Regions from separate parts of the Homo sapiens genome. Here all the other regions are linked to region 1. Evidence: fine-mapped expression QTL. A gene starts in region 1. Each other region holds a variant in brackets. All regions are shown on one strand. Distances are between the middles of the regions.

What was found. PIP is the estimated chance that this variant, and not a neighbour inherited with it, causes the effect.
Region 2: its variant is the best candidate, but not a certain one, in a credible set for the expression of CACNA2D3 in whole blood (INTERVAL, PIP 0.57).
Region 3: its variant is the best candidate, but not a certain one, in a credible set for the expression of CACNA2D3 in skeletal muscle (GTEx, PIP 0.71).

The regions. Positions count from the first base shown.
Region 1 is chr3:54,117,723-54,128,202 of GRCh38, reverse strand. It overlaps CACNA2D3 (calcium voltage-gated channel auxiliary subunit alpha2delta 3), which reads right to left and starts at 5,651. Exons shown (of 38, transcript NM_018398.3): 1 at 5,368-5,651; 2 at 4,609-4,690. The coding sequence starts at 5,489. LOC124909381 (a long non-coding RNA gene) reads left to right here and starts at 4,761. Exons shown (of 2, transcript XR_007095914.1): 1 at 4,761-5,146. RefSeq lists a silencer at 6,845-6,894.
Region 2 is chr3:54,960,921-54,971,400 of GRCh38, reverse strand. CACNA2D3 (calcium voltage-gated channel auxiliary subunit alpha2delta 3) reads right to left here. Exons shown (of 38, transcript NM_018398.3): 28 at 2,890-2,951; 29 at 1,557-1,601. It also overlaps a transcript of LRTM1 not described here. Among named protein-coding and RNA genes, the nearest start is that of LRTM1, 38 kb to the right of the region's middle. The variant T/C (reference allele first, on the strand shown) is at 5,357.
Region 3 is chr3:54,094,552-54,105,031 of GRCh38, reverse strand. All of the region lies in intron 1 of LOC124909381 (a long non-coding RNA gene), which reads left to right. Among named protein-coding and RNA genes, the nearest start is that of CACNA2D3, 23 kb to the left of the region's middle. The variant C/T (reference allele first, on the strand shown) is at 5,509.

The DNA of each region.
Region 1 (10,480 bases):
TTGCCTAAAAATTGCAGTAGTGTTAGAATTAATTAATTAAAATCAGCATGCGATCACCATGCTAATCAATCAAAATTATAACCACATGGGAATTAAAAATTTGAAGTTTGCCTCCAACCAGAAAACCATGCCTATATTTTCATTTTCCCTTAATTTTGAGTAGCATCTGTTGGTCTCCTGAGCAACACAGGCCGCAGCAGTTCCTAATGGGAGAAAAGGCAAAGTAGAAATGTATCTGGCAGAAAAGAAATTTTAAGGAGAAAAAAAACAAGTTAAAGGAAAAGAAAAAAAAAATGAGCAAAAAAGGCTCAGACCGAAAGTTAGCAAGTGGTCATGAGTAACTCTACAAGTGCAATGAGCTATATGCATAAGAGGCACAAACTGAATGCTCATTGGTTTGCCCTGCTCTGCTACTGTCTGGGTGATTGTGTTAATGAGACCAATAAACTGCCCTGAATGATTAAAAACTGTCACTTCAGAGATTTCAAGCTTTTAAAAATAACCTGCTAAGGAAAAGTCCAGTATTTAAAGTAATGCTATGAATTAAAGCATCCGCAGCATAGGTTGAACGCATTTATCATTCAGGATGGCAAATAACTGTGTTTATTCAACACAAAATGTTAGCAAAACAGCGCCTCCCCCACAAGAGCAATCTGAAGAGTGCTGGGCTTCCCACGAGCAGCAAGGCACTGCTACCTAATTCCTGATAAGTGAATACACCTATTCAGTTATTTAAAAGTCCACCGATTTTCACATTGATGAAAAGTCATAATTATAAAAATGGCTTAAAGCACCAACCTTTTACTTTGCTGACTCTGTCCTGTGGAAAGAGATATCAACTTTATATATTAAGGCTGCCCTCTCAATAAATAGTTGATAATGTAAAAAACAGATTGTGCATTCCAAGATGTGCGTGTTTGGTAAGTGCTCCATGAGGCGTCCAAGGTAAATGTCAATTCTGTTCCAGCGTTACTGGCAGAGACACACATTACCTGTATTTCCGTTGTGTATTTATCATCATGATTCTGGAAAATGTAACTGGAACCCTTCATTCCCGTGAACATTGGTTCCCCGAATGCAGGTCTAAATAGAATGAAAAACCCAGCTCCTATCCAATTCTCCCTGAGGAGGATGAAATGAGAATCAGCCAGTTTAATGCCTTTGATTGTGATTGTTAGAGGTGTGGAGACTGAGTTTAACAGCCTAGGTTCCCGGACCTACTAGAATGCTTCTCACTGAATCCCAAAATACAGCGGTAATGAAACTATGCCTCCCCAAAAGAACCAAACAAAGTCCATTCTTCGGGGAAAATGAAGCAAGATAAAGGCAGCTGAATACTGACTGGCATGGATATATCAAATCAGAAACTTAATTAAAAGTTGAAGTGAACGGAAACCCCTGCAGTATCTGCCAGCTTAGCAAGGCAGCACACAGGCATACAGCGGCGCACCAGCACCATCCCTCCAGGGGCCTGCTATTCTCTCACAGCATCTAAAACCCCTCAAGATGAACTCCAGCGCCCACAGACAAGTCCCACAATCTTCCATTCTGTACTGAAAACAGACAAATTTCCTAAAAGATGGCTTACTGCGTTTTATAAAATCAAAACTATCCTATTTCTAAGGACCTAACAGGTTGCTATTCCTGTGCTCAGTAAAGACAGAAGAAAAAAATATAGGGGCTATCTGGCATTGAATACCTAATATATTATAATAGGCTAAAGCGGCAAAACCCATGGTATTAAACATAGAAACAACTGATAAAATACTCTTATTTCTGAAGCCATAACAAGGTACATTGCTAAATGTTTGTGTTTACATTGATGAAGTCAGTAACAATACTGCTACCTCAAATTATATCACCTAATAAAAACATGTTACCAAAATGGCAGTTTTCCCAGTCACTAAACACCTTAAAATAGATGCATGGCCAATTATTATTTAACTTATATTCATAATAACTACTTTGTAAAGTGTATGTTTTAGTGCAAAAATGACTAAACTTCCATTCTAAAAATGAACACACTATATTGATTCACAACATGAAGTGTCAATTAGTGAAACTACATAAAATACATAAAATTATATGGTGGTATACAGCACACCTTACTTAACTGAAAATCAAGTTTAAAAATCCATGCCTTAAAAAGAGCAATTACACTCTATTATACAACATAGTATTGTCATCTTTGAGTCCCCTTAATACAGTGTTAATGCATTTTCCAGCCAAATTTTCTAACTCATTTTGAAAGCATCTTAATTGTTAAGGACACAGTGATATGATGGCAGGGTGCACAGAGCTCTGACTTAGAGGAGTAATTCCTCATGCAAATGGACAGAAACTTGAAAATTAGCAAAAGAGAAGCAATTATCCACTTGTTTTTCCAAATGATGTTATGTCTCCTACACTCTGAGCACTCAGATCTACTCCCATTCATACTCTGAACTCTCTAAACCAATGTTCTTTGCTAATTTTAAAAATACAAAAGCATTTGCGGGGATAGTGGACCAAAACAGCCAAAACATAGCTGAAAAATGCTCCCCAAGTTGTCTAACATGCTCCCCCACCACTTATGAAAGTCTCTGCCAAGTAACCCAAAGCCGTGAGTATTTCAGGACCCCCAGAGCAGACGATTCCAAACCAAGGACTAGGGTGGACACCCACCCTGGAACGCAATGCCAAGCAACACCTCACCTTTCCCTCGCATCAGATTACAAAATGCCAGGCAGCAGCAAGAAATGATAACAAAGCCATAAACAGCTGGAAATAATTACACAATTGTCAAGCTGCAAACATGACAAAAGCAAAGCAAAGCTAGTGAATTCAATATCAGAAAGGATGCTGATGAGAAGGTAAGAGAAGCATTTCAGCCTTTTCCAATTTGCTGTTATAGAGTAGCAAATAATAAGGTTGACGGAGTTTTGTGCAGTGTGTGTGTGTGTGTGTGTGTGTGTGTGTGTAACTTCAAAGAGAAAGAAAAAAACATATTTAATGTGTTCCTAGAAAATGTGGGATAAAAGATATGAAAGCACAACCAAAAAATATTAACAGGCTCTGAAGGGATTCTTTTAGAGTTGCTACAACTACAACGTGCAGATGAGAAATACTTCTTTAAAGTTATACAAAATGTTATCTTCTTTAAAAGCATAAGAAAAATATAAAGGCAATGCTACAGTCCAGAATTCATCACATCAAACATCTGACAAGTGGGCAAAATGCCAAAGCAGGAGACAGATTGGTCCAGATTAAAAGAATACTAGGGAAAGAGGCAATTCCTATGCAATTCCTTTAAGTGCCGAGGTGGGCCACAGGTATGTAAATTCTCATCTTCCACGAGGGCATTTCGTAGCCTCAACTGTTTACCAACTGCCTATAATTCAAGAACACCTTCCCAAACAACAGAGTTGAGCAAGCAATCTTTCAATGAATAAGGTTTCAATGAATAAGGCTATTGGCGATTTTTAAACCATAATAACTTTTGTCATTCCATGGTGGGCCAACGCTTTATTACGATATTTGGATTTCATGTGGCAAACTGTTTCATATACTGTCCCCAAAAATGCTACTCTCTGAAGGGGAATGCCATAAATAAAATACGTACTTGGTTACCAGGCAGCATGCATAACACATATGGTACATTGGCCCAAAAATCATATTTTAAAATGTTTAAAAGTTAACTTAACAATTTAAGCTGTTTGTACCCATTTTCAGAGAATTATTCCCTAAAGGCCAATTTTATTTTCTATCATCAAGAGAATACTTTGATTAATCCTGTTGATCTGCTAACTTGAAATTCTTTGAACCCCTCTAATCTCTCCTCCCAGACCCATTTTTTTTTCTTTATTTCCTGAAGGGGAGAACGAAGGACCATTTATCTCACAATGTAATTTTAAGCTTATGCTTAAAATGCTGCCTATTTGAATTAAAATTGATGCAGCTTGTGATAAGAACCTAATAATCAATTCTCCATTCTCATTACTCTCCAGAATTACATGGATGCAGACCCATTTCTTAAGTTTGTGGACTACTCTCATAGGTTATTACCCGGCAGTGCAGCTGAGTGGAAAGATAACCACATTCATTCTCCTTATCTGCAATGATGTAATGCATCCTAGCCCTGGGTCTAGATGATTGGGGAATAATGGGATTGTACAACTGCAGGGATGACAAACAATAGTGCAGCGTCTTTCTCTGATACACTGAACCCCACGCCTCCAACGCAAGGTGAAAGGCATCACAAAATAGGCACTGAGTCTGCCCCTTGGATGAAGTTAGCATTTTTTGGCCCGAGGAGCATCTGCTCTGGCACTGAAACAGCAATACCGACACGGAGACGAGAGCCATGCAAAAACACTCAGTTTCCGAGCCCCAGCCAGGACAGTGCGAGTGAGTATCCTGCTTTTCTTTGTGGTTAGAATCAAGTGTCATCTAAAAATAACCGGTTGGTAGGAAGAAGTCACTGCATAGTACAATGCCAAGAAACCCGGGGATCAGAGAGTCCTCCGATAACTGATGCTGCTCGGGGCTCACGTTTGTTTGGAAAACTAAATCTGCCTCCATTTTCTGTGCCGGAAAAATCATCGCTTCCTGCCACCACAGAAACCTTACCTTTTGCAGAAGCTGGGAACCGGAGTACTTAGCAGCAATGGATTTTATCTCCCCACCAAAAGCCGAGGCCCAGAGCTTCACCCTACAGGGAGAAGGGGCACAGGAAGATATGTAACACCCGTGTCACAGTCAACACGCACGCACACGCACACGCACACATGGGACTATGGCTGAAGGAGCAGTGCGATGTAACATGTTTTAAAAGAAGAAAAGATAGAAAAAGCGGCTTGGTAGAAACTGCCAGCACCAAAACTGCAAAGCGCAGCGCGGGAGGGGGCCCGAGGGGGGTCGCGGAGTTAAGAATGCGCAAAGTCTCCCAGGCTCTCTAAAAAGACCACTGAGTTTCATTCGAACCACTGCCCGAGGACTCGACCCCCCAAACTGGGCATCACCTGGCAAATAGCAGTCAGAAGAAATCCACCCATCCCCCCCCCAAAAAAAGAAGTGGGGCGGCAGTAGAGCAAAGAGGGGGGAAATTCAGCGGCCCATGGAAGTTGGATTCGGTAACCAGGCTCCAAAGTTGGTGCCGTCACTTGAGGTGAGCCTCTCCAGATCTCACTCGGCAACCTGCGGGCAGGGGCCAGAGCATCCCACCCCGGCCTCGCCGCCCGACGCGGGTCCCGAAAGGCAGGTGCGAGCGGCGAGGCCGACGCCCGCGGCGGGTCCTGCCCAGCCGCACCTGCAGGCGCCCAAACTTGGGCACAGTGGGTCGCAGGCGGCAAGGTCCCCTCCCCGGGCGGCGCAGGAGCCGGCACTTACACGGAGAGCGGTATCTGCTGCTCCGAGCGCACCACGTCCCCCAGCGCGGCGTAGAGAAGCGCGGCAGCGAGAAGCGCCGAGGCCCCCCGGGACGCGCGGCGCGGCGAGCCCGGCCCGGCCATGCTGGGCTCCCTCCGACGCGCCCGCTGCGGCGGCGACGAGAGCGGCCGCGGGGAGCTGCGCGGAGCGGGCGGTGGGCGAGCGCGCGGGGCTGCCTGCTCCGCTCCGCGCCGCCCCGCCTGCCTCTCGCGCGCCCGGCTCACTTGGGGAGCAGAAAAAGGAGCGGGTGGGGGGGGCGGGGAGGGCGGAGAGGAGAGGGAGGGAGGAGAGGTGGGGAGGGAGGGAGGAGAGGTGGGGAGGGAGGCGGGCGGGGGAGGAGGCAGCGAGACGCGCCTCTAGCAGCAGCAGCCGCCCGGCCCCGCCTCGGCGGCCCCGGGGAGTCCGGCGGGCCGCGGCGGGAGGGCGGCGGGGCAGGAGGCGCCGCGCGGGCGGGGACTCGGAAACTCCAGTGTCCTTGGCCGCGGCGGAGCGCGCCCTGCCCCACCCGGGCTACTGCGGCCGCTGAGTTCTTTACAACTCCGCAGTCCGCCACCGCGGGCGCGACTCTGGGGCTGGCCCCGGGCCGGGCGACCCTAGCCAGGGTGGGGGTTGGGGGCGCGGGAGGGAAGCCGAGGGCAGGGCGCGGCGCTCCGCACTTTGCGGGCGGCTGCTAGGAGAGGGCGTAGCATGCCCGCTCCGCCCCTGGGCCGGGCGGGGTCGGGGGCCGCGGAACCTAAAGGGGGCGCGCCCTCCGCCCCCGCCGCGCGATTCTCCTGCGGGGAGGGAGCTGGGGAAGAAGCAGAAATCTCAGAAAGGAGCACAGGCTCGCGGCGGCAGGCGGGATCGCACGCGGGGCGGATCGGGCTGGGGATGGGACTGGGTGGGAGCTCGGGGCTCTGGCTAGGGCAGCGCTGCGTGACCGCCCGCAGCTGCTCCTCCGGCCGCGGCGCCCGACAGGGGAAAGCACGGAGGGCGGTGCTGCCACCACGGCTTGGGCGCACCAGCGCGGGGCTCCCGGCATCCGGCCGCAGCGCAGCGGCCCCCTGCGCGCCCGACCCAGGCCCCGGGGCTCCCCAGCGGCCGCTGCCTTCGGAGTCCGCCCGGCTGCGGTGACTGGTGGGGACCGGGATGTCAGGGTTGAGCGAGGAAGCCAACGCGGCGCCGAGTCGATCCTGACCGGGGGACACCCTGGATTTCGGGATAAAAGATTTCTCCGAGCCTGGGGGATTGCCTGCTCCCCACTCCGGCGCCCACCGCACTGGGCAGGAGGCAGTGAGCGCCGGAGGAGGCGCCTTCTCGCCGCCCTCAGGGGCGAGGAGAAAGGAAGCCGGAGAAGCCCCTGCGCGTTCTGGGAACCAGGCTTCTCCCCGCCTCTCTCGCCGCTGCCCCCACCCCGGGACCCAGCTTGCAGAACCCCTCTCCCCCGTGCGAGGTATGGGGTGTGATTGGGAACTTTGTGGAGCCCTCGCGCAGGCTGGCGGTAAAGACCGACCGGAGTGAGGCTGAGTCATCCTTGCCCGGCCAAGCGCAACTCCGGTGACCCCAGCAAGGAGTGCGCTCCTAACGTCGCCGGGGCTCCCGGCGCACCAGACACCTGGGTTCATATTTGCATGCCTTTCTGCAACCAGGGCTTTGCTTTCTGCCCCGTCACCCGCCCTTGGCCTCAGCATCCTCAGGTTGCAGGGAAGTAAGGGCGGGCTCCAGCTTCCGCCAGGTGGTGTCCGGCTAGGAGCCAGGCCGGCTCTCCTTTCCAGTAGTCCCTGGAAAAAGTTACCCCTGCAGATGTTGGGCTTGATCTCAGAGTTGGCAGCGAGGGAGAAGGACTGCTACCGAGAGGCTCTTAGTGCTTTTCCCGAGTGCGGGCAGACCCGAGCTCCCCTGGGCTCTGGCAGGTCGCGCTCCCACCTTGGGGGGCAACGCAAGGAACAGGCCCCTCTCCAGGAGCGCCAGGTGCGCCCCGCCCGCGGGCAGTGTCTACAGCCTCTACGGATGACTAACCGGTTATAATGAATTCTCCGCTTCTGTGCATACCCTCCGCCTGAGGAAGCGTGCCAGCCCTTTCCAAACCGAGCCAAGCGCGGCCTGACCCCCGAGGCAAGGGGTCCCAGGAGTTGACCCTCAAATTGGGGGTTAGAAGAAAATGTGTTTTCCTATCAGAACGCGGGATCGTTCTTCCTAAATGAAAGCATAGTGAATGAACCAGTGAGTGAGTGCATGCTAGCTCTTAGTAAGACCATCCGTTTCCCACATGGTATCTATATGATGACGCCCTTCATGCCTTCACTCATTCATGTAGTCAATAACTGTCAATCAGCCTCTATTGATAGGTACAGTAGGACATGCTGGGAAGCCAGTAGTGAACAAAGCAGGCTCTCTGCCCTCACCGAGTTTATACACTACGAAGAGGACAGGCTTTACTGCAAAAACCATAATGGTAAATGCACAATTATACACTTTGACAAGGGAAAAACAATACTGTGTATGAAGAAAAAGTACCTGTGACACCCATACTATTGTTGTGCCTATTAACTGATGAGAACATCGAGGCACGGCAAAGTCATACAGCTTAAGTCATATTTAAGCAACTGCTTGACTGCTGGACTATACTGAAGACCACCTGGGCACCAAGGTCATGAAGACATTTCGTAATAAAGTCACTATGCGTTGCCAGCCTGACACAGGTGAATTTCGCAGTTGTCTCGGGCAACTAGAGAGTAGCGATGAGAGGCCAGGCACAGGAAGTCACAGTCCCAGGAGGAGAGTGTTTTGAGCATTTGTAACGCAGGCCATCTTAGGCAGAACATTATGCACGTTACATTTAAGATGGATCCCGCTAACCATATCCTAGTATCTCAAAAATAAAAAATATTTAAACTAATACTAATAAACTCAGAACTCAAAGTGTCCAAAGATTTGGGGTCTTACCACTTACACACTGTAATATTCTTTCCAGAATCACAAAAATCAGTGCTGAAAGGGATCTGTAAGCAATCTAGTCTTGCAGTCTTATTTTAACAGAGAGGAAACTTGAGGCCCAGAAGGATTTAGCCACTTGTCCAAAGGCACACACCCCTTAAAGAGAATCTCCTCACTTTGAACCAGGGAGTTCCTGCAGCTACATGAGAATAAGGGACCAGGAGCACCTTCCAGTAAGCCAAATGCAGTACCAGGGCATTGGGCACTACTTGCCATTTTCACCCAAAAGCTTATATTTCAACACCCAACTCTCAGTTGAAGCATGGAATCCAGAGAAATAAAACTTTCATTGGTAGACCTATGCACTCCATCCCACCTAGCTGAGGATGTCGCACTTTGTCCTGCAACAGTGAGGAGCTGCTGGAGGTGTTTGAACAGAAGTGAAAGATGATGACACAGAAGTGAATGTTTTAGGAGCATTCACCTGATCCAGCATATGGAAGGGATTCTGGAGGAGCCCCTAGAGCAGTGGTTCTCAGTGCGCAAGAGGGCATTGCCCTTGGGGGCATTTTGAACAGCTGGGACTTTTTTTTTTTTTTTTGAGACGGAGTCTTGCTTTGTTGCCCAGGCTGAAGTGCAGTGGCACAATCTCGGCTCACTGCAACCTCCACCTCCCAGGTTCAAGTGACTCTCATGCCTCAGCCTCCCAGGTAGCTGGGATTACAGGGGCCTGCCACCATGCCTGGCTAATTTTTCTATTTTTAGTAGAGACAGGGTTTCACCATGTTGGCCAGGCTGGTCTTGAACTCCTGATCTCAAGTGATGTGCCTGCCTCAGCCTCCCAAAGTGCTGGGATTACAGGTGTGAGCCACTATGCCTGGGCTAGTTGGGATTTTTTCTGTTTGTCATGACTTGGGGTCCTACTGGCATTTAGTTGATAGGGGCAGAACAGGCCCATGCAAGGACTTTCAAGTACCCCACTGAACATTCAGGTAAGAGAAAAACCCCACTTATAAGCATCTGAATCTAGCATTAAAAGCCATTTTGTACATAAATTAAGAGGAGTTTTTGCATGGCTTTAATAAACACCATATTTTCCAGGAATGCAATTACAATATAAATAAAGGCATGGTTGTCTTCTGTTTTGTTCAGAACCTTACCAAGAAGTTGTTTGGTTGCTTGAGGTTTGTTTGATTTGTTGTTGTTGTTTTTCATTTTGGAAAATCTCCAACAGCAACTGTGCTCACAGATCCTGAGTTACCAACACACACACCTGTATCAGTCTGCATTTGGGGTGTGGCATTCACAGTTAGTCTGCACATAAGCACAAACAGCTAATAATGTCATTAGATCTTGTAGTTACATCTTGTGCGAGCATTTCATTTAAATACTTCTTATTTTATTATAAATTACTTTTATTTTACTTCTCTTTGCTGTTGCCAAATAAGGCATCATACTGTCTTTTTAAAATTCTGACTTTGATTAGGTTATATTGTCTCAGAATTTCATGTCAGGATAGTAAAGGAGGTGTTGAGTCTATCTGGGTAAATATCTACTGTGAAAGGAATACCAGCTAAAAGGCTGAGATGTTGCTGATGAGGAAGCAAAATGGTTCACTCAAAAGGAGGAAAATGGCAAATGCTTTCACATTTAACCCAGCAATTCCTCTTCTGGAAATTTATCTTACAGTTACTGTATTAGTCTGTTCTCATGCTGCCATGAAGAAATGCCCAAGACTGGTTAATTCGTAAAGAAAAGAGGTTTAATTGATTCACAGTTCCACATGTCTGGGGAGACCTCAGGAAACTTAGAATCATAGCAGAAGGCACCTCTTCACAGGGCAGCAGGAGAGAGAATGTGTGCAAGCAGGGGAAATGCCAGATGCTTATAAAACCATCAGATCTTGTGGGATTCACTCATTATCACGAGAACTGCATGGGGGAACCACCCCCATAATCTAATTACCTCCACCTGGTCCTGTCCTTGACAGGTGGGGATTATTATAATTCAAAGTGAGATTTGGGTGGGGACATAAGAGCCAAACCATATTATTCTGCCCCTGGCCCCTCCAAAATCGCATGTCTTCACATTTCAAAATGCAGTCATGCCTTTCCAACATTCCCCCAAAGTCTTAACTCATTCCAGCATTAACCCAAAA
Region 2 (10,480 bases), 840 kb before region 1:
TGAAGAGCTTAACACAGGGCCTCGAGACACTGATTAATCACTACTACTATTGAGTTGTGTTGTTCTTGAGCTGAGCACTCCAATAAGACAATAAATGTCTCAAAGACATGGGAGAGGCTTGAGGCCCACTTGACTATCCTACAAAAATTATCCCTGAACTTGCTGAAAAGGGTGTGGACCATACAACTTCACAGGGTATTCTTTCCTAAGGGGAAATTAGTTTTGATCTGATGATCACAGAAACTTGGGCTTCTGCAGAAAACTTTGCTGACTGGCTTTTTTTTTTTTGATACTGTGACTCATACAATGATTATGATTTTCTAACCAGCAGCCAGATCCTCTGGGACCGAGCATTTTGTTTTAACTTCATCCTGGACTTCCTTTTATATTTCCTTACTTGTTTTTCCTTTGTCCACCTTTTTGAAATCTACTTCCTAATCTATGTTTTCTGGGTTGAAATTGTTTGGTTAGGATTTCTTAAGTCCTCATGATAAGCAGAAGGAATATAAATATGTGACTATTTATAAGGTCTAGTTTACATATTGACTGCTGTTTCACTGATGCAGAGAGAGAAAGGCTACCTCAGGAGAAGTGAAAAGGCCACCATGCTTCTGCCTGCTCCAAAACGTGGGGCAGAGGGTATGGGATGGCAAGGTATAAAAACATAAGGCAGATGGAAACACTTTGGGTAGTGGCATAGTTTCTTCTTCCATTGCGCATGTGTAGGATTAAAATCCCTCCTCCCAAAAGGCAGAGAGAGAGAAAAAGAGGAGAGGAGAGGAGAGCAGAGGAGAGGGGAGGGGAGAGGAGAGGAGGGGAGGGGAAGGGAGGAGAGGGGTGAGGAACGGAGGGGAGGAGAGGAGAAGAAAGGATAGGAGAGGAGGGGAGGGGAGAGGAGGGGAGGGGAGGGGAAGGGAGGAGAGGGGTGAGGAACGGAGGGGAGGAGAGGAGGGGAGGGGAGGGGAGGAGAGGAGGGAGACGGAGAGAGAGAGAGAGAACAGAAGAGGAGAAAGAAAAGAAAAAAGAAAAGATTTGTAGGAGAGAAGCAGTATGCTACAAAGAAACATTTTGAGTTTCAAAGTTTTTAACTCCTAGGTTTTTTGTTTGCTTATTACATGAAATTAGCTGAATCACTTAATTTCTCTGATGCTCAGTTTTTCTTATCTGCAAGATGGGTCAACAAGTCCTACCTATTTCACCGGTTGTTGCAAGGATGGAAAGAGATTAAGGCATGTAGAAAAAGGTTTGAGAATTGTAATGTGAGCTTCAAACAGTAGGAGTTAGGAGTTTGTATTATTTCCTACAAAATGTCAAAATTCCAATAGTGCTATCCATGAGACATTTAAAGCACATTTCCAGCTGTCATAAACTGATGGGAGGTGGGGAACAAAAAAAAAGAAACAAAGCAAATAAAGCAAATGATTTTTTTTTTTTTAGATTGGCCCAGTACAATGCGTCAACCTGGCCTTGTTTATAAGGGCATTCCCTCGGTCATAAAGCACCATCTGTCACCTTCTATCCACAGGGGTAGAAACAGGACCAGGAGGCCGTCTTACCTCATCATCACAGCTGATGGAGCATTTGCCATCCAGGGAAGCACACTGTGAAGGCAAAAAGTGGAGGGAAATGTGTTACTATGTTACTTGGGCATCCCAGTGCCTGCTGTGGCTGCCACTGAGCTACTTAAGGACAAGCTATCCAAGTCATGGGCTAGAATTCAAATACCCAATTTCATTGAAAAGGAATGCTCCATGATGTGTCTTGTCTACTATCTCTGGAATCAGTATCAATTCCAAGTAGTAATGTAAAATAAAAGATCTATGAAACAACTGAGCGGGGTGGGGCAGGCACAGTGGCTCACACCTGTAATCCCTGCACTTTGGGAGGCCAAGGAGGGCAGATCACTTGAGGTCAGGAGTTCGAGACCAGCCTGGCCACATGGCGAAATCCCATCTCTACTAAAACATACAAAAATTACCCTAGTGTGGTGGCAGGCACCTGTAATCCCAGCTACTCAGGAGGCTGAGGCAGGAGAATCACTTGAACCAGGGAGGTGGAGGGTGCAGTGAGTCGAGATCGCACCACTGCACTCCAGCCTGGGAGACAGAGCAAGACTATCTCAAAAAAAAAAAAAAAAAGTCTACTTTATGTTGTCATTAAACAGTAATGATATCTTTTTAAGATCTCAAATCTTTTGGTAACTAAAAATACAATTATGTAATTAATTTAAAATTCATTAATTCTCAGTGACTTTAAAAAACCCCTGTCCATCTCCTTAGTTTATAGCTTCCTAAAGTATCTTAATTTAAAGGATGATAAGCCATTCTAACATTTATTCTTGGTCAGATGGAAGCAACTTATCAGTGGCCCTTTCTACCAAATTACTCAACAAATACCACTGAGATGACTTAGTACAGAGAGCATAGCGAAAAGAAAACAATGTTCCCAGATTCTCCAAGGTAGACCCTGTGAACAAAGAAGTCAGATACATGTTTTGGAGAAACTAGTTACGTAAAGGGTTTCTAGATTTTGATAATGAGATTCACAAGTAAGTAACCAGGCACGACCACAGGATTAGGAGAAAGTCAGAATGAAAATCTCACAAAAGGCCCCAATACTTAAAAGAAAAACTCCTTTGGAAGGTCACTATCTTGATCCCACAATTAAAACTGTTCCTAGGAGCAAATTCCCTGCTTTGCTCAGCATGTGGTGTCTAACATGCTGACAGCCCTTTATTTTGCAGTGAAATGAAAGGTAATCTGAGCAGCCGGCAGTTGATTTTACAAACATTCATCGGAAATCTGGCACTTTCAGGCTCCAGGTACCCAAATGGGAACACCTGTATAATAACAGTGTCGCTAATGCTTCAAGATGCTGATTATAACTTACCTGTCTGCTGGCAGTCCAGAACTTCCTTTGGAAAAATTCAAGTTTCATCTGAATGCCTACAGCTGGGACAAATTATAAATAAAACAAGGCATTAGTGATCCCTTTACACAATTATTTAAGATTATCGTTGAAAATTATCCGTCATGGCAAGAAGCTGATATAAGCATATAAAATAAAATGTACAGTGAAGCATACAACTAAAACATTTTATCTTTCAGGTAAAGAATTCTCAAGTTTACCTGCACTCACAGAACTCTCGATACAAAACAAACAGCACAGTGCAGATCGCTCTTTGGAGACATGTTACTTCGGCATTTCTAAAATTCATATGCTTGCACCACTGCCCCTACCCCCACCCCAACACAAGCTGAGAAGAGGAAAGAAAAAAAAAAATTCAAAAGATCACTATTGCTTCAGTTCCTGTCAGCTATTACTGTTTGAACTTGCATGTCTAAAATGTGTACTCTGCATGTGTTTTTGAGACGTAACATTTGAAAAGCACTTGTCATGAGGCTAGAATTCAGAAGTGAGTCACTTTACTATAATGTGTCTTAGTTTAACTGGCCTCCTAGAGTCCACATCTCAAGGTTCTTCTCTCCCATGGAACTCTGGTAAAATTATGTAATTTTTTCTTTGTCTGTGAAAAGCTTCCTAAAGCAACTGTGAATGCTAGTTCTAGTGACAGAAACAGCCAAAAAGAGAAGAGGTTAAGAATGTGACTTGAAACTTTGGGAAGTGAAATTTAGTGGAACCTCAAAACTATAACATGAGGAAGTTCACCTTATTTTTCTCCATGAAGCCCAAACCACTTGAAAGACCTGAAACCATCTCAGGAAGTAAAATGGTAAGGGCAAAATGCTCCTCAGATGGTGGGAAAACTTGAGAGGCGTTCAGAAGAATGAGACTACAGGGAATACTGAATTCCCTGGAGCACGTCATTTACCCCAGTGCAGTTTTGCAAACTGTAGTCTGTTGCACACAACCTCCCCATTTTTACCATATTTGCATACCACCAATACTCTTATTGTCCTTCCACATTTCTTTCTTTTGCTTAAAGACCTACAGTAATTCAACCTAAATAAAACTGGAACACCCATCAAAAGAAATACACAATTGTAAGAAAAAAAATCACTTAAATACTCTAAAAATTTTGCGTGCCACTATACTGGACCTCCCATTTGGGTAATCATTGTTGTGCTGGCTTCAGGAACTTGGAGATTCATAAAGGTCTTGGGCTGTTGTTACCCTGATAACTATCAAGGGCATTTCTACTTCCTAAAGAAATTGTTGAAGCCAGCCCTGAGAGTAAAGGTTAACTGGGTGTGTACATTGGGAGAGATTTGCCATCTGTGTTTGCACTTAGAATTTCCGACTCTAGGATAAAGACTAGAGCAGTGCACGGCTGCAACATGCAGAACGTGAAAAGCCTCTGAAATGCACCATGTCGGTGCCCAGGCTCATTCTGCTCTGCCTTAAGTGTCCTTCGTTCTCTGGACCACAGCCTTCCCAAGAATGAGGACCTGTTCTTGCTCCCTGCTGGACCCCTGCCTCCAGCAAGATGCTGAGTACACAGACGACCCATAGGTAAATGCTTGCTTTTTAAAAAAAACTTTCAAGTGATATTATAGTCAGCAGTTAGAGAGAAATATAGAAGAGTAACACCTATGCGAATCGTTTGTTTGTTTGTTTGTTTGAGACAGAATCTCACTCTGCTGTCCAGGCTGGAGTGCAGTGGTGTGATCTCAGCTCACTGCAACCTCTGCTTCCCGGGTTCAAGTGATTCTCATGCCTCAGCCTCCCGAGTAGCTGGGATTACAGGTGTGCACCACCACACCTGGCTAATTTTTGTATTTTCTGTAGAGGTGAAGTTTCACCATGTTAGCCAGGCTGATCTCTAACTCGTGGGCTCAAGTGACCTGCCTGCCTCAACCTCCCAAAGTGCTGGGATTACAGATGTGAGCCATGTGGCTGGCTTGGGTATGTTTTAAAAGTGTCCCAGATGATTCTCACGCACAGCCAAGGTGGGGGATGGCTTTAGTAAATCAGCTGTTGGGGACCTACTGTGATGTGGGCCACGTGGCCAGACTACACAACACAAAAGCTGTTCTTCCCAGCATTGGAGAACATTTCAGAGAATGCCTGAAAGAAGCTGATTTTGAGTCTGATGGTAGTTGACTGCATTTCAAATAAATCTCATCTTCCAAATGCCTGACAGGCCAGGGTGCAGGGTGCAAAACAGGGTCTGACTCCCTGAAAGAGTCACTCCAGGGTAGCCTTTCCATGGTGCTTCTCCCTCCAACAGCCCAGAGCTGTCCTGGGCCCACCTGTCATCTCTTGAGCTTCCATGAGTCTCCTGATGCCCTTTCTGAGACCCCCACCCCCGTTCTCTGATGGAGCCCTCATCTTCACCTCCCTGATGAAGCCAGCTGCTCCCCGCTGGGTGTTTATCCATCTCACATACTTGCAG[T/C]CTGTTCTCATCTGCCCCTGTCGGTCCTCTACCCCAGCTCCTTGGGGCGCTTTCATCTTTCCTCATGAGTCAGTCCCTCCATCCCATTAATCATGCAGGCTGCTTCTCTCTGATCTCCCTCCAGCAGGCTGCATCCTCGTCCTGGTCCTGATGCCCTGAACTAGAACTGCTTCCCTCTCTCCTCACTCACACCCCTGCCTGCACCATGAGGTTGTTGCCCAAAGGCTCCTGGATAGTCCTGGCTGCAATTGTTCTGCTAGTTTTGACCTAGCTGTGTTCCGGCTAGCTGACCTCATCCCCTTTCCAGTAACACTGGCCCCTGGCTTCCTGTGGCATATCTGGGGTTTGCAGTGTTTTCTTTTACCCATAAGTTAATATACTCTCCTATGATTAAGGGACTCACAATTTCATTGATGGATCAACTTCACGACCATTTGTTCAGTGAGTACTAAGCTCTACACTGGGTACTAAGCTCCCTCCACGTCCAGTTGAGGAGTAGATCCATTGTAAAAGCTACACTAGAGGCATAAAGAACTGGAGCGTGCAGAGAATGGGGCTGACTTGGCCTGGTGAGAGCTTTGTGTAAGGTGAGGCATGGAGAGCCCACTCACAGAACAGTAAGAAGCCAGGGAAGATGGCAATCCAAATGGAGGAAACAGTAAGGGAGGGGAAGGGAGAGAACCTTTTTAAAGACCATCATTTGTTTGGAGGCTTGAGAAGAATGGGAACGGGGACCCAGTTGTTCAGGCTGAGGTCAAATGGCAAAAGGTCTTGAATGTCAGGCCAAAGCTTCAAGAGTACGTAGGCCAGAGATTGGTCCAATGGTGAAATCCAGCCTCTTTTTGTAAATAAAGTTTTCTTGCAGCACAGCCACACTAATTGGTTTGCACACTGTCTATGACTCCAATAGCAGAGCTGAGTAGTTTTAACTGAGATTGCATGGCCCACAAAACCTCAGTTATTTACTATTGGTCCTTTACAGAAAAAGTATTCTGACATCTGCCGTTGGTGCCATTGAAGGTCTTTAGTATCGAAGTGGCAGGATCAGGTTTATATTTTTAGAAAGCCCACTCTGAAAGCTCGCAGAGGAAGTGCTAGGGAAAGGGCCTATAAAATGGGAAATGGGAGAATGAGAGTAAGGGATCGAGAGTAACGGGATTGAGCTCATTATTTCTTGAGCGTGAAAATGATTTAAAGTGCAAAAAACAAGGCAACAAAAAAAAAAATAAGAATAACCCTCTCCCCCAACAAACAAGCAAATAAACAAAAATGCTTAAGGGAATCCTATGGCCAACTCTATTCAGAAAAACAAATATCACCTGCCACAAGCCACAAACAGAAGTGTAGCTTCCTTTCACTATTTTCCTTAGTTTTGGTCCACATTTTTCTTTTCTTGACCTTTATCAGAGAAAACACGACTACTTCAGTGAGTCCCACTCTCTCCCTTCAGCCCCCACATAACCTAAATGGAACCTGAGACATTTGTCAAGCCCGTCTATTTTGTTCTTTCAGCAACATTTCAAGCAGTAACAGTATATTGATTTAAGTCAGTCTTGCTAATTTAATAAGGAAAACAAAGACAGCAAATGCTTTTGTGAAACTCAAGTCCCAAGGAGAGTTACAGAAAAAAAAAAATCACCATTCCTGGGGTTTGTAATGTTTTAGACAGTCCAGAAAATCATCAACATATTTCCCCGGAGGTCACAGTGCTCCTTACTTCAATTTGATTACAGATGTCCCAGGGCTCCCTCCCTGCTGGGAATCTTCATCACATGGATAGAGACAAAGTCCCTTTACACAACTGCATCTGGTGATATCTTACTCACCACCCAGGAACACAACCGATCCAGAAAATATTATCCCATAGGATCCTTCCCCATGTGCCAATATGGGGTGAGCCTCCTAGGACAGCGACCCCAAGATACTGGGATGGTCTTTGGAAACCAAGACAGCAAAATTATTGTTATAAGAATTGCCATCTCAAAGAGCCCAGAATCCTTTCATGTGAAATATTCAGGAATCTGAAGCACTGACCTCTCTTTTGAACTATCTGTGTGACTGTTCTCACAACTCCTCTCAATACTCTAAGAGGGCTTAACTACAGATATCGAAACTTCAACAAAGTATCTTCCTTCCAGACTTCCTCTTTTCCCAACTGTCTAACTTCCTTCTTATCTACTTTTACCCTCCCTTCCTCCATTCCTTTCTCCCATGTTTATCAGAAACCCAGTATGTGCTGGGTGATAGGTGTATTGAGAAAAAGATGTGAGAGACACAACCGCCAGGGGTACAGGCCTGGGGAGGGCAGTCAAATCACCGAAGAGAGATTCACACTTCAGCATCCCCAGAGCTGACAGAAACGAATGCAGGGCATCATCCAAAACACATAGACCATTTGCTTTGCAGAATACCAATGATCGGCATGCTTGAATCTAGGGACAGGCAGCTGACCTTGAATGCTCTGATCCTGTGCTGTCCAAATTAGTGGCCATTAGTTACATGTGGCTATTTAAATAAAAATTAACTAAAATTAAATAATATTCACAATTTAGTTCCTTAGTTGCACTAGTTAGATGTCAAGTGCTCCGTAGCCACAGGGTGCTAGAGGCTACGGTACTGGACCATGCAGATCTAGAATATTTCCATCATTGCAGAGACTTCTACTGGACGATGACCAGTGATCCCAGAAGGAACCATAGAAAAGAAATGGACCCTAGCACTCCTTAAGGATGGAAGGTACAATTCTCCACAAACCCGTCCATACTACCACTCCCCAGAGGTAGAAGAAATGAGATGACTTAGGTATAGGGGGTTTAGATCAGACAGGACTGCCAGCGTGAGACAACCTGGACTTGCAAGGGGAAGTTGGAAATGAGTTTGAATGAACCCTAAAGAAATCAATGCAACAACCACCCTCCAGATTTATTTATTTTGCTTTATAAAACTTGAGACTACAAATTACATTTGCAGTGCTATTATGTTTAAATGCATTCAAGATGAAATCATGCATGCATCTCATATCATGTTAATAGACATGCATTCAAGTGTAATCTGAAACTCACAAAATATAAAATTAGAAATAAAACATATAAAATTAGAAATAAAACAACTTTTCTCATATCGTATTCATTTAGAAATAATTTCCTGTGGGGTTGGCCTCAACTTGCAACATACTAGAGGGGCACAGATCTGGTTTGTAAAATAGTGCTCACTATGCCTGGCACACAAGCTCACCCAAACACCCCTACTTCCATTTGCCCAGCCCTCCAGTCATACAATATATTCACATACACATAGAGAGCTCATCCAAAAGGCAGAAAAACAATCCTGCCACCATCAGTGAATTCCAATCAGGAGTTGTTTTGCTGCGAGAACTGATTGCAAACCCGTTTTAAGACCACTGCTGTGTACCCTTGGGTATGTCACTTTACCTCTCTGTCTCCACCAATAGAGTTGCACCGGCTCTGGCTTCTGAACAGAATTTTTGTGGGACAAAAATCAGTGAGAGTAAATAAAATCACGGGTATTAAAATACTCTAACTAGTTGATAGTGTTGTCATCATTCATGTTATGACTTGCTCCTAGAGCTTTTATTCTTTATTCTTATGTTTCATGGCTAATATGCCTTTCATGCCAATTATGTTGAGAGTGAGCAGAAAATTCATCTATGACCAATGCAAACTGTCCACTCCTAGGAATGTTCCTTAGAGTGTTATATCAGTGAGCAAATGCATTACAAAATCATGCTATCAGCCAAGCAGGCTCTTAGAGAATTAATCTTTTTCCTTCAGGATTAAGGAAAGGTGTGCTCCACCATTCAAAACCTGTGCTATGGTTTGAATGTTGGTCCTCTCTGAAACTCATGTTAAAATTTGATCTCTAATGCAGCAGTATTAAGAGGTGGCACTTTTAAGAGGTGATTGGGTCCCGAGGACTCTGTCCTCATGAATGGATTAATCTATTAATAGATTAATGGGTTAATGGATTAATGAGTTATCATGAGAGTGGGACTGGTGGATTTACAGGAAGAGGGAGAGAGACCTGAGTGAGCACGCTCAGTCCCCTCACGATGCCATGCCCTGTGCCTCCCTGGGACTCTGCAGAGCCCCCACCAGCAAGTCCCTCACCACATGGGGCCCCTTGAACTTGGACTTCTCAGCCTCTGAGAAGAGGCTTTAAGAAGTGAATTCCTTTTCTTTACAAATTACCCGGCTTCTACCACTCTGTTAAAAGCAAAAGAAAACAGAAGATGTCCTGTCACCCACCCCTTCTGGAATTGTGATCATTCATGCATACTCAGGACAAGGTTAGACAGGTCAGGGTACAGAACCCAAGAAGACTGCTGTCCATGATACTGGTGCCATCAGCTTCCTGTGCACATCAATCAGGCCACCTGCCCACAAAACTTCTCAATGACCTGGCTACTGCTGGACAATTGCAAATGTGGACAATTACCATTTCATTGTGGTGTCCAGGCAGAGAAACAGATCCAAGAGCTGACTTGCACTGGCTTGTTCTACAAACAGAAGATTTTCTCCTAATAGATTCCAATCCATAGGTAGGAATATAGTAGAAAATTGTAGTTTTATTAGAGGGAATACAACTACAATAAGTTAATAATAAATAAATTACCTGCTAAGGATTTCCCATATATTTCATCTCTTAGGAGTAGAGTGACTTTTCCCAAAACCCAAATTGTACAGATAAATGCTCATCCAGATCATCAGCTTCCTTGCTGGTCATATTTCTTAATCAGGGCACTGGGTATTTTTACATGGCTTGGTTAATATCTCTTATCCAGTCTCACCTCCACTTTGACAGTCTCTGAATTTTTATTTCTTTGTGCACCATGGCAAAGATTGCTAGCAGTGATAGTAACAAGGCCTGGCATGTTTGGATTCCAACTTGCCTTAGTTAACGGTCAACTGTAATAGCCATTACCCAAGCCACGTTTGTTTAAATGTTTTCTTCTGTTTGTTTTCAAAACAGTTAACTGCAAGTAGAACTAACAACGAATCTGAATGTCATTTTTTGGGAATATTTCATGATTAACCCAGGGTTTGGAAAAAGGGCACTGTTCTGGAGCATCAAGGAAAATAACTCCAACCTTCTTTACATCAAATG
Region 3 (10,480 bases), 23 kb after region 1:
TTGTGGTTCTGGCTACTTGGAAGGCTGACATGGGAGGATGGCTTGAGCCTGGGAGGTCAAAGCTGCAGTGAGCCGTGATCATACCACTGCACTCCAACCTGGGCAACAGCGAAGACTCTGTTTCAAAAAAAGAGAGAGAGAGAACAAGTTGGAAACCTACGAAACCTTTAGTGGAGAAGCAGGTACAAAAGAAATCCATTCATCATAGATAGAGATAAAAAGAAACTACCTGAACTTTTGATGGCTGCATGAGAACCGGCATGATAGATTAGAATTCTGAGTACACCCATTCATAGAGCAATAGAGCAAGTCTCCGCTCACCTGCTGACTGTCTCCCACAGTCTGCACTGAACACATGGCAGTGGTATGCTAAAGGCTGGGGATAAGGCAAAGTTGTTGACAAACATCCCTCTATTGCAAACAGGGTCTTCCTCTATGTGCAAAGCAGAGACTTTCCCCAACTACAAGGCAGCAGTCCACCAAAGGCTGGTGTCAGGGCAGATAACTCTGAGAAATACCTTTAAAGCAGCGGCCCCCAACATTTTTGGCACCAGGGACCGGTTTCACGGAAGACAATTTTTTCACGGACCTGTGGGTGGTGGAGTGGTTTTGGGATGAATCTTTTCCACCTCAGATCATCAGGCATTAGTTCGATTTTCATAAGGAGCACATAACCTAGATCCCTCGCATGTGCAGTTCACAATAGGCCTCACACTCCTACGAGAATCTAACGCCACCGCCGATCTGACAGGAGGTGGAGCTCAGGCGGTAATACTCTCTCGCCTGCCACTCACCTCCTGCTGTGTGGCCTGGTTCCTAACAGGCCATGGACTGGGACTAGTCCATGGCCTGGGGGTTGGAGACCCCTACTTTAAAGGACTCCAGGCCTTCATCATGAAAACTTTAGCTACTCTCCTAAGTCTAAAGGTAGGGTAGAAGTTCTGAGAGAGCTGAGAGAAATCCCTATGAAGCCTATAGACATTAAAAGAATGGTAATTGGGCTGAGCACAGTGGCTCACGCCTGTAATCACAGCACTTTGGGAGGCCAAGGCAGGCAGATCACTAGGTCAGGAGTTCGAGGCCAGCCTGGCCAACATAGTGAAACCCTGTCTCTACTAAAAATAAAAAAAAAAAAAGCCCGGCCTGGTGGCGGGTGCCTGTAATCCTAGCTACTTGGGAGGCTGAGGCAGGAGAATCACTTGAACCTGGGAGGTGGAGGTTGCAGTGATCTGAGATCATGCCACTGCACTCCAGCCTGGACGACAGTGTGAGACTCTGTCTCAAAAAAAACAAAAACAAAAAAAAAAAAAAACGGTAAGTGGATATTATGAAAAACTTTATGCCACCAAATTTGACAATGTAAATTAAATGGACAAATTCCTTGAAAAACACAACTTCGGCCAGGCGCGGTAGCTCACACCTGTAATCCCAGCACTTTGGTAGGCCAAGGCAGGCAGATCACAAGGTCAGGAGCTCGAGACCAGCCTGACCAACATGGTGAAACCCCGTCTCTACTAAAAATACAAAAATTAGCCGGCTGTGGTGGTGTGCGCCTGTAATCCCAGCTACTCAAGAGGCTGAGGCAGGATAATCGCTTGAACCCGGGAGGCAGAGGTTGCAGTGAGCCGAGATTGCGCCACTGCACTCCATCCTAGGCAACAGAGTGAGACTCTGTCTCAAAAAAAAAAAAAAAGAAAGAAAGAAAAACACAACTTCATACAAAATAGAAACAAGAAGAAAAAGAAAATATAAAAACCCTGTATCTATAAAATACATTAAATTTTAATAAAACAAATAAAAACCTCTAGGTTCATGTAGCTTCGCAGTAAATGCTATAAAGATTCAAGAAATAAATAATTATAGACACAAACACTTTAAGAAAATAGAGGAGGAAGAAACAATTCCAGCCTCATTTGATGAGACCAGCATAACTCTGATACAAAAACCTGACAAGATCATTAAAATAAAAAAAATTACAGATAAATATCCCTTATGAACACAAATGCAAAAACCCTGAACAAAATATTAGCAAGTTGAATCAGCAATATATAAAAAATGGTAATATGATCAAGAGTGATTTTATCTTTTGAAAAATAATAGAAACATAAATTGTTTCATCCTGTGAAAAATCAATGTAATTCACCACATTAACAGAATAAAGGAGAGAGGGAAAAAAAAGTGCACTCCTCTTAATATATGCAAAATAAAATCGAAAAATTCAATGCAAATTTAAGATTTTTAAAAATAGCTTAAAACTAGGAATAGAAGCGAACTTCCTCAGTTTGATAAAGATCATCTGCCAAAAGCACCTACAGATAGCATCATATTAATGGTGAAACACTGAATAATTTCCCCCTACAACTGGGAATAAGGCAATATGCCCACTTGTATTTAACTCTGGACTGGAAATCTTAACTAGTTCAATATGGCAAGGAAAAGATTGGAAAGGAAGAAATATAATTTTCATTATTTGCTGACATGATTATGTACATAGAAAATCATGATGACATGATTGTGTACATAGAAAAACTCTGCAGAATCTACAAAAAAAATGTATATTTTAAAAAATCTACTAGAACTAATAAGTGAACTTAGCGAGGTCACAGATACAAAGTCAATATATAAAAAGCAACTGAACTTCTATATATTTGTAACAAACAAAGTGTATTAGTCCGTTCTCACATTGCTATAAAAAGCTACCTGAGGCCGGGCCTGGTGGCTCATGCCTGTAATCCCAGCACTTTGGGCGGCCGAGGCGGGCGGATCACGAGGTCAGGAGATCGAGACCATCTTGGCTAACATGGTGAAACCCTGTCTCTACTAAAAATACAAAAAATTAGCCGGGCGTGGTGGCATGCGCATGTAGTCCCAGCTACTCGGGAGGCTGAGGCAGGAGAATGGCGTGAACCCGAGAAGTGGAGCTTTCAGTGAGCCGAGATGGCGCCACTGCACTCCAGCCTGGACGACAGAGCGAGATTCCGTCTCAAAAAAAAGAAAAGGTACCTGAAACTGGGTAATTTATAAAGAAAAGAGATTTAATTGACTCACAGTTCTGCAGGATACACAGGAAACATGGCTGGGAAGGCCTCAAGAAACTTAGAATCATGGCAGAGGGCAAAGGGCAAGCAGACATGTGTTATACGGCCAGAGAAGGCAGAGAATAGCAAAAGGAGAGGTGCTACACACTTTTAAATAACCAGATCTCATGAGAATTCACTCACTATCATGAGAACAGCATGGGGGAAATAGACCCCCACGATCCAATCACCTCCCGCCCAACCCATCCTCCAACACTGAGGATTACAATTCAACATGAGATTTGGACATAGATACAAATCCAAATCATATTAAAAAGTGAAATTTAAAAATAGCGTAATATTAGCAACAGACACCAAACAGGTAGGAATAAATCTAAGATGTACAAAACTTTTATACTGAAAACAACAAAACATTCTTGGGATAAATTAAGTAAGTCCTAATAAATAGAGATATATCATCAATATTGTTAAGATGTCCATTTTCCCAATTTAATTCAACATAAGCCCAAGCAAAATCCCAGGAGTCATTTTTGTGTAAGTTGACAAGGTGATTCTAAAATGCATAGGGAAATATAAAGAACCTAGAGTAGACAAAATGATCTTGAAAAAGAACAAAGTTGGAAGACACATGATTCAACTCTAAAACATATTATAATGCTACAATCATCAAGATAATGTATTGATTTAGGCATAGACATAAAGATAAATAAAATGAATGGAGATCCCAGAAACAGACCCATACTTACCTGGTCAATTGATTTTGAACAAAGAGTCCAAGGTAATTCAACGAAGAAAGAATAATCTTTGTACAATTGTATATCTGTATAAAAAAAAATGAACCTCAACCCTTGCATGAGACTGTCCACAGAAAGTAAATGAAATGGATTATAGATATTAGCTTAAAAGCTGAAGCTATAAAACTTTTAGAAGAAAACATGAGAGAAATATCTTCATCACCCTAGTATAGGCAAAGATTTCTCAGACTAGATATGATAAAAACTAACCAAAAAAAAGATACTGATAATTTGCACTTTATCAAAATTAAAAACATCTGTTCTTTGAAAAACACTGTAAGAAAATAAAAATAAAACAATATTTAATAAAAGACTTGTATCTAGAACATATTAAGAACTCCTACAACTCAATAGTAAGAAAATACACGATTTACAAATGGACAAAAGATTGAACAAACACTTCACAAATGAAAATCTATGGCAAAAAAACAAAAGTGCATGAAATGATTCTCATCATCATTACTTAAGAGGAAAATATGAATTTAAATCCACAATGAGTTATCACTACACACCCCTAGAATAGTTAAAATTAAAAAGCTGGACAATACCAAGTGTTGTGAGGATGTGGAGCAATTAGAACTCTCATGTACCACCAATGGGAGTGTAAAAGAGTACAACCATCTTGAGGAACACTAGAGCAATTTCTTATACTCATATACCTACCCTATAATCCAGAAATTCCTAGGTATTTACTCAGGAAAAATGAAAACACATGCCTACAAGTTATACACAAATGCTCCTAGTCCCTAACTGAAGACAATCCAACTGTCCATTAACAAGTCTTTGGATAAACATATAGTGGTATATTCATGTAATAGAATACTATTCAGCACTGAAAATGAACTGTTAACACATGAATGAATCCAACAAACAACATGAATGAATCTCAAAAACATTATGCTTGAATGAAAGAAGCAGGGTACAAAACAGTATATACTATAATGATTCTAAAATATGTGAAGTCCAGAAACAAACAAAAACTAATGGTGGCAAATTAGAAAATGCTTGCCCAGTTGAGAGGCATTGGGTAACTGACTAGAAAGGGCACTTTCTGGGGTTATACAAATGTTCCAAATTTTGGTTTAGGTGGTTTTTGCACAAGTGAATACCCCTGCCAAAATTGTAAAAACTGAATACTTTAGACATGTGCATTTTATTATGTGAAAATTATGCCTTGATTTTTTAAAGTTATGATTAGATTTATCTCTATATATTTGTGCCCAGCAATAATAATATCATTTTCAAGAGGTGCTGATCGATTCCTTTGCATTGTGATAATTGTCTTATTATAACTATCTGTAATTATATGAAGCCTTCATAAATGTGACCACGTGCAATAATAAAGTTGTAAAACACTTAAAATAGTAACTGGCAGACTGGGGAATATATTTGCAACTCAGCTCTCAAAGGGCTAATGACCCTCATATATAAGAGATCTTAAAAATATATATTTAAAATACCATAAATTCAACATCCCTTCATAATAAAAACTCTCAACAAATTAGGAAGAAAGCAGTATGGCAGTTCCTCAAAAAATTAAAAATAACAGCAGGGCACAGTGGCATGGGCCTGTAATTCTAGCTACTCAGCCGGCTGAGGCAGGAGGACAGCTTGAGCCTAGGACAGCTAGTGCCTGTGAATAGCCACTGCACTCCAGCCTGGGTGACAGAGTAGGA[C/T]TATATCTCTAAGAAAAAAAAAAATTAAAAATAGAACTACCATATGATCCAGCAATCCCACTACAGGGTATACATCCAAAAGAAATGTAATCAGTATATTGAACAGGTATCTGAACTCCTTTGTTCATTGCAGCACTATTCACACTAGCTGATATATGGAATCTACTTAAATGTCCATCAACAGAAGCATAGATAAAGAAACTATGGTACGTTTATATACATATTATAGTTTACACACACACACACACACAATGGAATACTATTCAGCTATAATAACAAAATGAAATCCTGTCATTTGTGGCAACATGGATGAACCTGGAAAACATTTTTAAACTAAATAAGCTAGGCATAGAAAAATAAGTCCCACAAGGTCTCACTTATACGTGGAGTCTAAAAAGTTGTTCTTATAGAAGTGGAAAGCAGAATAGTGGTTAGCAGAGGATGGGGGGATGGGGAGAAGCCGGGGAAGGTGAGAGATTGGTCAGTGGGTACAAAGCTATAGCTACATAGGAGGAATAAGTTCTGGTGGTCTGTTGCATAGAAAGATCACTAGAGTTAACAACATTGTATTGTGCATTTCAAAATAGCTAGAAAAGAGGTTTTTGAATGTTCTTATCACAAAGAAATAATACATGTTTAAGACAACAGATGTTAAACTGTCATCATTACACAATTATACATGTATCAAAACATCACATTGTACCCCATAAATATGTACAATTATTATGTGTCAATCATAAATTAAAAAATAAAAATGAAAGTCATAGGACTGTTAAAAGAAAACATAAATTACCAAAGTAAAGACTGCTTTACTCTGGGAGTGGAGTGCTTTCATCACAAGTGGATTTCACTCTTAGGTGTAGCCACTTTTTCCTATTTCTGGTTTTATTTTCACATTTAATGGTGGTGTGAAAAAAGGGAACAAAGAAAGAAGGGAGAGAGGAGGAAAAAAGAGAGATGCACACCTATGCTCAAAGAAAGTACTGGACAGAACTATACAAACATATTAATAACAGGGTGGAATTATGGGCCTTTTTTTCTCCTAATGGATTATCTGTATTTTTTTTTACAATGGACACGTAACTTCTGCTCATTTATAGGAAATGCTATCATGCAAATGAGAACTATTTCTGGCGAAACTATTATATCTAGAAGTACTTTAAATAATTTTCATGAAGTTCAATTTATGAGTCAAAATTTTATTCCTTCAACAGGCAATGCTTTTATTATTCTTTTATACCCACCCACAGAACATGGGTGGGGATAAATGAATTAAGAAAGCTTCATGAACTTTTTACATATAAATGCTGCATCATTTTATATTCTAGTAGCTGATAATATTTTTTAAAGCTCATTTAAATCTACCTAACTTATATTTGGAGTTTTCTTCCACAGTTTTCATCAGACATTGTGCCCATATTGGTTCCTTAAAATAGATGTAGAAGCTGGGGAGGTGGTGCATGCCTGTAATCCCAGTTACTTCAGTGGCTAAGGCAGGAGGATTGCTTGAGCCCAGGAGTTCAAGTTCAGCCTGGACAACATAGCAAGGCTCTGCCTCTAAAAAATAAAAAATAAAAAAAAAACAAAAAGTAAACAGACGTAGTAAAGAAATCCACTGGCAATTTCTATGTCCTTCTCAAAAAGCCTTTGTATTATAAAATCTTCAAATGTGCATAGAAATAGAAGATTGTCTATTTAACTCTGTATAACCATCATGTAGACTTACATTTTGTCATATTTGCTTAGTCTTTAAAAAAAATACAGATTATAACATTTCATCCCTAAATACTTTAGCAAGCATTTCTAAAATATAAGGATATCTTATAGCCACAAAATCATTTTTACACCTAACAAAATTAACAACAATTTCTTAATATCACCTAATTCTTAGACCATATTCAAATTTCCCCCATTTCTGCCCAAAATGTATTTTATAGTTATTTGTTTGAACTAGGATCCATATAAAGTCCGACTGACCATTTCATTTCTAAAATCTAGTCTTTTTAAAATCTAGAATAGTTTCCATCATCACCACTACTTTTTTCTTTCTTCTTCTTCTTTTGCTTTTTAATGTTATTGACTTGTACTTGGTTAACTGTTTCATAAAGTGTTTCCTGGAAATTTAAAGAATGATTTGACAACACCGCCAGAGAACTCACTGTAAAAATAATCATCTCAAAAAAGAAAATCAGACTCATTTTTTAATATCAAAATCTTGCAAATCTCCATCTTGAACATCAATACTATAGTGTGGAGGGGCGGGGCAAGTAGGAATATTAGAAAAATTCCATAAAACTAGCATATTTTAAGAGCTAGGTACAGTGGCTCATGCCTGTAATCCCACCTCCTCTGGAGGCTGAGGCAAGAGAATCACTTGAACCCAGGAATTTGAGTCTGCAGCGAGCTATGATTATACCACTGCACTCCAGCCTGGGTGACAGAGGGTGACCCCGTTGAAAGAAACAAAAAACGAAAGAAAGAAAGAGAGAGAGAGAAAGAAAAAGAAAGAAAGAAAGAGAAAGAAAGAAAGAAAGAAGAGAAAGAAGGAAGGAAGGAAAGAGAGAGAGAAAGAAGGAAGGAAGAGAAAGAAGGAAGGAGAGAGAGAAAGAAGGAAGGAAGGAATGAAAGGGTAAAGGAAAGGAAGAAAAAAGAAAGAAAAAGGAAAGAAAGAAAGAGAGAGAAAGAAAGAAAGAAAGAAAGAAAGAAAGAAAGAAAGAAAGAAAGAAAGAAAGAAAGAAAGAAAGAAAGAAAGAAAGGAAGGCAGGCCCTGATTTTAGAAAGCCGCCTTCCCTTTGGAGCCTCTCAACCTGGAAGAGACATCACAATTTCCCTTCTGGCCTGGAGGAACAAAAGCTTAATGTAGCTTGCAGGAAGCCTGACTTCAGCTGGCTTTAACACCCCCAGGAGGAGTTAAAATGTGAAAGAACAGCACTTTGCCTTTTAGGAGGCTCATCTTATCACAGACAACAGAGGTAAGAGAAAACATTTTAAGCTAATGACATTTACTGCTAACCAGATCTGGTTGAAGCAATCCATTGGACTCCAGTTTGCAGGTCTCATTTGTTAGAAGATTCATTTAACTTAGAATGCTCAACCAAAAGCACCCCACCTTCACATTTCTCTGAGTATTATGCTAGACAATGAATTATTCTCCCAGCTGATTAACTATCTTTAACCCCCCAGGCTGCTACAATATTGTGTGTATGTTAATTCGACTGCATTGCAAATTATCTGACGTTGAACAACAATAATAAAAGAAAGAAATATTAAGCCTAATGGAAGGAATGTTGCTAGGGAGATTTTTATAAGATGGAACCAAGAAAGTCCTTCATGTATAGAAGGAAAATTTCTGAAATCATCCAACATGCAATAATTGAGCATCTGCCAACTGGGTCAGCTGCTGACCCATTTCTGTACTGGTCAGTGGGGTCTAGAAAGGGTGAGGCTTTCATTGGCAGGTTTGGGCCACATTCCCACTCCTAAGGTCAGAGGCGAAGTCAACTTCATCCAACTTAAATCTAAGAGTCATGAACAAAGCCTTCCCCATGGAAAAGCAAAAGCAGCTACCAGCAGAAGGGGGAATGAATCCTGGGCAGCAAAACCAATAGATAAATGGGTATCCATAGAGCCAGAGATAAGTGAAGTCAGAAATATCGAAAAGGGGCCATGAGTGTGTGTCCCCTCTGTCTATTAGAATGCTTGGGTCACTAATACTTTTTACTAGCTTTGGTCCTTCCCCAATGGTATCCCAGTCTCTCAGGTCTCTGGGTCCATTGGGTTTGTTGGCCTATTGGGGAAGCTTCCTAATATATTTCCTCTCTTGTGCGGGAAAGCCTTGTCTCCAACTAAATGCATTTTTCTAAAGCCCTTAATGGAATGACCTTAATGGAAAGAGTGTTTTAGTCCCAATCCCTGGAAACACATCATAGTTCAGCTATGTCAGCTGTTGAGTCCAGCCTTAGTGGGAGAAATCATGCATTTCTTGATTTTGTTCTTCTAGATGTCAAAAGGCAACATAAAAAACAGTCCTTTAATTTTTCAGTGAAAGATGAAATGAAGGCAGGGAGATTTCAAATCACTAAGCAGATTCACCTTTCTAGTAAAAAGAGATTCCTCTCAGGGCTTTCCTAGCCCAGCGAGGTTGCTTGGTCCTGCCTTGTGGTTCTTGCCTTCTCCTCCCCTCCTGCAAGCAGCTCAGAAACAGAGGGAAAACTTTGTAAATATGGGCACAAGACAACACCAATCTTCCTCTGGCCCTGCTAGAATCACTTATCAGAGCCTTCCGGAGAGGGACACGTGTGCTGAAAAAGATGCAAGGCAAATATTATGGATAATACTTAAAAAATAAAAGGGAAATGAGTCATGTTGGCAAGTGAATTTATGTTTATACAAAATATTTGTGGAAACATGCTTTCCACTTTGGAGATTCTCCTGATCCATCACCATGACACTAATGTTGCAAGAAGCAAATCCGTCAGACAGTGACCATTACTTTTTAATAGACCACTCCATTTTCAGCAATCATACTAACAAAATCAGGACATAGCCCAGTCTGCTTGCAGGAGATGAAAAATACTTGCAAACACTTCACAAATGCTCCCCTGCACAATGAGGAAGCTTGCTCACAGGTAGTCCAGATGCAGAACAGGACAGGAGTGTCCAGGGAACTCTGCTATGCGGATTCTTCTAGGGCCTGGCCAACATGTGTGTGGTGCCTACACACCCGGCGCCAAGTTTGTTTTTCAGAAAGCTGTTCTCATTTTGTACAGAAAGGCTCTGCTTGAGGGCTAGGTGTATGGCCTTTGCTTTCAGATTATATAAGATGTAAAAACACATGATCTGGATCACATAGGCCAAAGTATGATTTTTTTAAAGTGCTTACCAAAGACACGAAGAAAGAGCCTTAAAAATAAAAACCTATCTGATATATTTGTGACTACACCAGAACACAATTCATTCATTCACTCTTTTG